Regions from separate parts of the Homo sapiens genome. Here all the other regions are linked to region 2. Evidence: fine-mapped expression QTL. A gene starts in region 2. Each other region holds a variant in brackets. All regions are shown on one strand. Distances are between the middles of the regions.

The links. PIP is the estimated chance that this variant, and not a neighbour inherited with it, causes the effect.
Region 1: its variant is fine-mapped to the expression of ANO1 in tibial artery (GTEx, PIP above 0.99).
Region 3: its variant is fine-mapped to the expression of ANO1 in thyroid (GTEx, PIP above 0.99).

What each region holds. Positions count from the first base shown.
Region 1 is chr11:69,916,727-69,919,477 of GRCh38, forward strand. No RefSeq gene overlaps it. Among named protein-coding and RNA genes, the nearest start is that of FGF3, 99 kb to the left of the region's middle. The variant C/T (reference allele first, on the strand shown) is at 1,658.
Region 2 is chr11:70,077,056-70,079,806 of GRCh38, forward strand. ANO1 (anoctamin 1) reads left to right here and starts at 1,262. Exons shown (of 26, transcript NM_018043.7): 1 at 1,262-1,659. The coding sequence starts at 1,552.
Region 3 is chr11:70,105,117-70,107,867 of GRCh38, forward strand. It overlaps ANO1 (anoctamin 1), which reads left to right. Exons shown (of 26, transcript NM_018043.7): 5 at 618-672. Among named protein-coding and RNA genes, the nearest start is that of ANO1, 28 kb to the left of the region's middle. The variant G/A (reference allele first, on the strand shown) is at 1,340.

The DNA of each region.
Region 1 (2,751 bases), 160 kb before region 2:
CCAGCTGCTCAGGAGGCTGAGGCAGGAGAATCACTTGAACCTGGTAGGCAGAGATTGCAGTGAGCTGAGATTACACCACAGCACCCCAGCCCTGGTGACAGAGCAAGACTCTGTCTCAAAAAAAGAAAAAGAAAAAAAAGAAGAAAAAAGGAATGCCACTAGTCTAGAATCAAGGTGTCTGCAGGGCTACATTTCTCCTGGAGAGTCTAGGAGAACCCAAGCCTTGTCTTTTCCAGCTTCCAGAGGCAGCTTGTGCTCCTTGGCTTGTGGCCCCTTCCTCCATCTTCAAAGTCAGCAGCACTGCCCCTCCTGGGAAGATTTTCCTCTCTCTCCCTCTCCCTCTCTCCCTCTCTTCTATCTCTCCCTCTCTCCCCTCCCTCTCTCTCTCTCTCTCCTTCTCTCCTCTCCCTCTCTCTCCTGAGCCATGCCCTGGCCCTGCCCTGCTCCGCCCTGCCTCTCTCCCTCTCTCTTCACTCTCTCCCTCTCTCTTTTTCTCTCTCCCTCTCTTCTCTCTCTCTCCTCTCCCTCTCTCCTCTCTCTCTCCTCTCCCTCTCTCCCTCCCTCTCCTCTTTCTCCTCTCCCTCTCTCTCTCCCTCTCTTCTCTCTCTCTCCCTCTCCCCTCCCTCTCTCTCTCTCCCTCTCTTCTCTTCTCCCCCGCTTCTCTCTCTCTCCCCCTCTCCCCTCCTCTCTTTCTCTCTCTTCTCTTCTCTCTCCCACTCTCTTCTCCCTCCTCTCTCTCCCTTTCTCCTCTCTATTTCTCTCTCTCTCCCTCTCTCCTCTCCCTCTCTCTCCCTCTCTCCTCTCTCTCTCTCTCCCTCTCTCCTCTCTCTCTCCCTCTCTGGCCCCCTCCCCTTCTCTCTTCTCTTCTCTCTCCCTCTCTCCTCTCTCTCTCCGTTTCCCTCTCTCTCTCCCCCGTCTCTCCCTCTCTTCTCTCTCTCCCTCTCTCCTCTCCCTCTCTCCTCTCACTCTCTCCCTCTCTCTCCTCTCTTCTCTCTCTCCCTCTCTCTCTTCTCTGCCTCTCTTCTCTATCTCCCTCTCTCTGTTTTCTCTTTCTCCCTCTCTCCTCTTTCTCTCTCTCCCTCTCTCTCTCTCCCTCTCTCCTCTCTCTCTCCCTCTCTCCTCTCTCTCTCCCTCTCTCTCTTCCCCCTCTCTTCTCTCTCTCCCTCTCTCCTCTATCCCTCTCTCTCCCTCTCTCCTCTATCCCTCTCTCTCCCTCTCTCCTCTATCCCTCTCTCTCCCTCTCTCCCCCTTCTCTTCTCTCTCTCTCCCTCTCTCCTCTATTCCTCTCTTTCTCCCCCCCCCCCCCGCTTCTTCTTGTCACATCTTTTCTGTGACTCCCTCCTGCCTCCCTCTTACAGGAAGCTGGAGGTTACCCACGACCGTCTGGGATCATCTCCACCTCAGAATCCTTGCTCCGTGACATCGGTAGAATGTCTTTGGCCACGGAAGGGAACATGTTCATAGGTCCTGGGCACTAAGATGTGGGGGATTCCATTACTGGTGGGGGGTTCCATTATTTGGTTGACCACCGACCTGGTACACAGTGGGTGCCCCTGGGATTTGTTGTAGCAGGGAGCACTGGCTGCAGCAGGAGCCTGACCCTCGCGGGAGCGTCTAGCCAGCCTTGGTGCCAGGTAGGCCGTGGCATTTAGCTCTC[C/T]GGCCCAGAGCCTCAGCAAGGCCACGGCGCTCGGCCAGAGGAACACAGCCACCCAGCGGAGAGCCAAGACTCAGCCCAGACGTCCCAGACGCCAGGCCCTTTCCTGGGTGCCCTCAGCACGCCCCACCCCCACCCCGTGAGGACGTCTGCCCGGGCTCCGGATGCCCCAGGGCCTTGGACCACCAGGGACTGTGCCTTAGGGGCAGGGTGACCCTGCGGTGCTGGGCGTTTGACACGGCCTTTCCCCCTGGAAGCCTCTGTCGCCCTCGATACAATGTGAAGAGTTGGGCTGTAGGGTCAGGCGGAGAGATTGGGGTTCACATCTGGATTCTGGCATCCACGGGCAGAGCGACCAGGACCAGTCTGAGAAACGGGGTCCTCACTCTAAACGTCCGGACGGCCCCTGCCTTAGAGGGAGTGGGGGATGAAATGTAGCAATGTCCCCTGCACATGGAGAAGCCTCCTCAGGCGAGGCCGGGGGATCAGGCAGCTCGCGCCCGGAAGGCTTCGCATATAATGCACCGTCTATTTCAGCTCGCCGGGGTCTTGCTGCAAAGTTGCGCAACAGAAAATGTGAGAGACGCGGCAGTCACTCCACTAAGCGGGACAGGGCCAGGCCCGCCGCCAGGGGGCAGCATCGCCTCTCCCGGCCGAGCCTTCCTGGGAGTCCCGCGGGGGCTGCTCCCCAAAGGACAGAGCTCCGGGTTCATGGGGAACGGGGTGCCGAGAAAGCCTGCCTGGCCCTCCCAGGCCCCACTTCCTTGTTCTTACAAACCTAAGGAAGAGTGGGCTCCTGGGATTAACTCGGCGTCACGAAACCCTGGCCCTGAGGGACGGACCTCTCAGCCTGGGTCAGGCCAAGGACATCTGAGTGGCCCCACCGCGAACTCCTGTGAGCCCCTGGAGCGAGCAGTGGCCTCGAGTCTGTGCCCACCTCCTTTCACGCCCCTCTTCCCTGGCTGGCCATCTTGGCATCCCTCCTCCCCTGCCACTCTATCTTGGCCTCCTGGGCCGGCTCCCACCCCCCGGTTCCCATGCTTCCTCCCCGCAGAGAGGGACCCAGAGGTGCCACCACCTTGGGGTGACCAAGTCCC
Region 2 (2,751 bases):
CCTATCCTAGCTGACTCCAGGTTCCATGCTTGGAACCATGGCACGCTGACGACATCGTGGCCTTTAAAGACAATTTTCTAATCACTTCTGTAGGCCTTGAATGTTCCCCAGTGGCCATTTAACAAGCAATTATTGAGCATCGGCTGTGTGAACCTGGTAGACAACCCACTGTAAAATGAGACGGAATAAATGAAGTGCTAGTTGGGGTTCAGGCAGGTTCTTTGGATAGACAGGAAGGCCTGCATATTTGGGTGGGAAGGGGACAGTAGGGGAGAATCCAGCAGGACTTCCTGCAGGAGGTGCTATCTGATGCACACCGTGAAGAACTCATAGGATGTGAGAGGCAGAGGGACACTTTATTTCCACTGGATGTGGTGGCCAGCATGGCCCCTGGGGCTTAACCTGAGTATGGTCGTCCCCTGGGGACCTGCCTTATTCTCCTTAGGGGAAGAAGACTTGAAGATCTGCAGTGTGCCAGACCCCTGCTAGGTCCGGGGGTAAGAGAGATCAAAGCCACCATCCCCCCCGCTCCGCCCCTCCAGAAAGCAGGACAGCCTTGCCCAGCAGTGGGGAAAGCTCTGCAGGAGCCCCGCCCCACCTCAGAGGATGCGGACTGGTCCTTGGCCCTCCTAAGCCTGAGTGTCCTCTGCAAAATGAGGACCCGCATTCCAACCTTGCAGGTGCGGGGTTAAATGAGATGATACACACTCACGCCCTACATCAGGGACGCTGCACGCACCTGGGCACAGAACACTAAGCACTCCGTAAACTCGGGGGCACCGGTAACATCAGTGGGCTCCAGGGAGATGACTGCCCCGGGAGAGACTCCCCCAGGAGCGCGGGCAGCTGGAGGGGGCGGGTCGGCAGGAACCAGGCAAGCTCCCCGGAGGAGGTGAGTGCTGAGTGACAGCAGGAGTTTGCCAGGGTGGAGGGAAAGGGGCAGAGATCCAGACTCCAATCTCAGAAGCTTCACTCCCCCCGGAGGCGGAGGTGACGCGCCACAGAAGCGCCTGCCACTCGGGGACTTTATTTCAGGTGGGGCTATTGAAAGTTCCCCCCTTTCACACCCGGTATGAAAACCCTCAAAAATCCAAAGGGGCACTTTCCCTGGATAAAAATAAAACTTGGAGGGGCCCGCAGGAATGGAATACTTTTTCTTCCTGTGTTTAAATTTCTACGGAAAATCTGACCGGCGCGGCCACCGCCCCTGCCATAGGCGGGCGGAGAGCGCTTATATCTTTAAGGCAAAGGCGGGCCGGCTGGCGTCCAAGTTCCTGACCAGGCGCGGGCCGGCCCGCGGGACCAGCAGCCGGGTGGCGGCGCGATCGGCCCCGAGAGGCTCAGGCGCCCCCCGCATCGAGCGCGCGGGCCGGGCGGGCCAGGGCGGCGGGCGGAGCGGGAGGCGGCCACGTCCCCGGCGGGCCTGGGCGCGGGGAGGCCCGGCCCCCTGCGAGCGCGCCGCGAACGCTGCGGTCTCCGCCCGCAGAGGCCGCCGGGGCCGTGGATGGGGAGGGCGCGCCGCCCGGCGGTCCCAGCGCACAGGCGGCCACGATGAGGGTCAACGAGAAGTACTCGACGCTCCCGGCCGAGGACCGCAGCGTCCACATCATCAACATCTGCGCCATCGAGGACATCGGCTACCTGCCGTCCGAGGGCACGGTGAGTGCGGGCGGCCGCGACCCGGGCGGGAGGGCCGCGCACCTGCGCCTTGGCGAGGGCGGGAACCGGGCGGCGGCAGGGCCTCCTGGGACCCCAGGGCGGGGGCCGCACCCTCCGCGCAGGGTTCGCGGCGCCCACCCGCGCACGTGCGTGCCGGGAAGGGCGCGCCGGCCCTGGCCAAGTGCGTGCGCCCCGCCTGCGCTCTGAGCGTTCCGAGCGCGGCGCCCACTCCGCCCAGCGCAGCGCCGGGCCCCCAGGCATGGCCCGGCCTCGGAGCTCTGCGGCCCCGAAGCCGCCTCACCCGGGGCTGCAGCTCGGAGCCCAACCAAGAGCTCACGGCTGGCGCCCTGGATGGGACCTTCCCTTCCTGGCTCGCGGCCAGGGGTACCTGTTGGGGCAGCCAGGGTGAGGGTGATGGTGGGGGTCTTGGGTGAAGGCCAAGTTGGTCGCCACTCCACGATGATGGTAACTGCCAGGCCCCACTGCTTCACTATCCTCTGGGGCCAGAGTCCCGAGTCCTCACTTGCCAGAAACGCATATTGTGCCCAGGGCACTGGGCCTGGTACCCTGGCATTGGCACCGAAACTCTCAAAGCCCAGGGTGTCAATCATTGGAGATTGCTTTCTACCCTCGCCCCTGTCTCCCCTGGGCGCCCAGGCCTGGTTCAGGTGGGGGCACTGGTTGGAAGCCAGTCATGTAAGTTGGGGACCCCATCCTGAGGTCCCCAATATCCCCACCACCCTCCCCAGGGCCAGACCCAGAGGTCTAGGTAACCCTATGTTTTAGAGAGGGGGGCAGAATTCTCCCAGGAAGGGTTTGGCTTGAAGGACAAAGTTTGCCGGAAGAGGATAGGACAGGGCTGGGACTGGCTATCTCCTCTTGGGGTGAGGGAAGCTCTCAGCAGCAATTTGTGGGACCTAAGGACAGAAGCTCCCTTCTACCTTCTTCCCATGCAGACCCCATCAAAGCCCCTCCCCAGGCGTCAGGCCCAGCAGGGCTGCTTCAAGCAGGATGAGGATGGCCCTGGCCTGTCCCTCTAGTCTCTGGAGCTCACAGAGAGGCAGGGAATGAAGCGGGAGCAAAGCTCCTGCT
Region 3 (2,751 bases), 28 kb after region 2:
CAGCCCTGCTGCCTGGACAGGGCTAAGCTCACCTCCAGGCTCCGTGGAGGTGGAAACTGGCCCAGCCGCCCTCCCCAGCTCTCCCCGAAGTGCCTTGGAGAGCAGGGAGAGCAGGGAGTGTGTTCCCAAGATGCCCCTCCACCCTCAGGAAGCCTCGGGCCATCCCTATGCAGCCCATCAGGACCCAAACCATTGGAAATACAGGGAGATTGTTTTCAAGGTTGGAGCTGTCTGATGGTGGCGGTGATACTGCCCCTGTCCCCCGCCTTGTTGAAACAGAGACTTTCAAAACTGCCCACTGAGGATGTCATCAAAAGGAAGCAGGGATCTTCTGGGGGGCTGTGGGGGGTGGGGGGCTGGAGGGTGGTCTGACCGTACTCGCCTCCTAGGTCACTTCCCACCTATGTGGGTCTCAGGCCTCGCCCAGGTGCGGGGGCAGTGAAACAGTCTGTTCCAAATGCCCAGGGGCGGACGGGTCATACCTGGCGTGCGGACAGAGTTCTGTCCATTTCACGGTCACGGCTAATGGGGACAGTGTGGTTTCCCAGGGCCTTGAAACCCAGAGAACTGCCAGCTCTGGTGAACTGTGTCTTGTTTCCTTCCCGATATTTCCACAGATTTGACTTGTCTGATAAGGATTCCTTTTTCGACAGCAAAACCCGGAGCACGATTGTAAGTATCGCACGCGCCTGGAAACGGCTCACTGGCAAGATGGCCCTGGGGATCCAGATGATAATTTCATTTTGGTGAAACTCCTCCCGGTGGAAGCCGGCTCTAATTGTCTGTGACAGAAATAATTAGAATAATGAAAGGGAGAGGGCAACGAGGGGCCCAGGGGATGGTCGTGCCCCAGGCAGGGGCAGCTGAGAGGAAGGGAATCAGCACAGAGCTTGGGAAAGCAGGAGGGAAGCCAGACCCCTGGAGTGATTTCAAAGGTCGGTGTTTCTGGATCTGTGCAGCTCCCAGCACATGTCTCAGAGCCGCCTCGTGGTGGGATTGTGCGTGCCTGACCATCAGGCCACGATTCGGGGCTTTCAGGGCAGGCAGGTGTGGGCAGGAGGGAGGGTTGGTGGAGGCAAAGGCGCGTGGGTTGAGATCTCTTTCCAGGCCTTTGCCAGAGGAGCCAACTGAGGTTTGAAATCTGACCAGGCCACCCTGCCCTATTCAAGGCACTGGCTTCATGTTTATCCAACCTGTCCACCAGCCAAGCTGGGGCTGTGCATGGCTCAGGACCCAACTTCTATCTAAACAAGAAATTAACCTGGCAGCCAAACTTTCGCTGTTATTCTCTATTCCCTGCCCAGAAAGCCCAGCCTGGCCGGGCAGAGACAGAGGGCTG[G/A]GAGGAGACAGTCAGGGTGACCTTGTCCAGACAACTACTCCTCATGACCACCACCTGAGACTGGCAGGCAGCCAGCAGGAGGTCGGTGCAGGTCGTACCAGCACGGGGGGTTCTGAGCCACTGCTGGGACAGACAGATCTGGGGCAGGGAGGAGGGCATCTCTCTCCCAGAGACCCTGGAGGCCAGTTTCTAAATGGCCAACATGCTCCAAAGAAACTGATAATTCATAGCTTTGGCCTTGGTTAGTCAGGCCTAATAGTCATCAAAATCCAACAGCCTGCAGGGTTGGCTGAGGTTCTAGGCAAAGCCGTGGAGAACTGACAGCCCTTCCCCACTCCTCTCCTCCACACCATTCAATCTGTCCTGGCATTGGGGTGGTCCAGTGTGCAAGTGGATAGGAGTCAGAGAACAGCAGTACTCGATAGGGAGAGGCCCACTGTGCTGGTCTTGGATTTTAGACCTTTGGCCTGTGGGCGCTGGGGAGCCATAGAAGGTTGTGGAGCTAGGTTGAGGATGTGGTGAGATCCGTTCCAGAAGGATCACTGCCAGTGGCCAGCTGTGGGAGGGTAAATGACTGGTGGATGAGGGCTGGTGGCAGTGGTCATAAACATGGGCCATAACTGCATGTGGAAGGGAGGAGGTGGTTACAGGAGAATCAGCAAGGTCAGAACCGATTAGATCTGAGGGATGATGGGGAGGGAGCCATTGAGAACAGCCTAGTGGGCGATTCCTTCCTTCATTCAGCAGGGATGTATTGGGCACCTGCTGGGTGGGAGAAAAGAGGCACTGAGGACATTTATAATCCGGCAGGTGGGGAGAGGCAAGCTGAGCTAGAAGACAGAGCCACCGGGAGGGTGGTGGCCTCAAGGCCTGGTTGTTAAGGGGACCCTGGACCTATTCCAATCTGAAGGGGACAAGTGCTTCTGGGAAAAGGAACAGCCAGGGCGGAGGCCCTGTGGCTGCAGGAGTGAGTTTGGAAAGTGAGAGAGGCAGCCAGGGGGCGGGGTTGTTGGGACAGGTGGGTCCAGTGGAGGCGGCGGGGCGGGGAAGCGGTCAGATGGCCTGGGCCAGGGGGAACTGGAAGGACGCTGGCCTTGCCTGAGAGAGTGGAGGCAGAATTGGCATGCTCTGAAATGCACGTCTGCATAGCACGACCAGTTCTTCTCACCCCAGTTTACAGATGGAAAAACTGAGGCCGGGAGTGGTGATGTCGCTGGTCCAAAATCACACAGCTGCAAATGGCAGAGCTGGCGCCAGGTTCCAGGCAGACAGACTCCCAAGCCGGAGCTGCTGAGGCCACCAAACAAAACACGTCACTAGTCAAGGGGCAGGCAGCCGGGGGGGAATCCCTTCAGCAGGGCTCTGCCCAGGCACCAGGAACCCAGAGCCCGATGATGGCCGCCTCCTGCCAC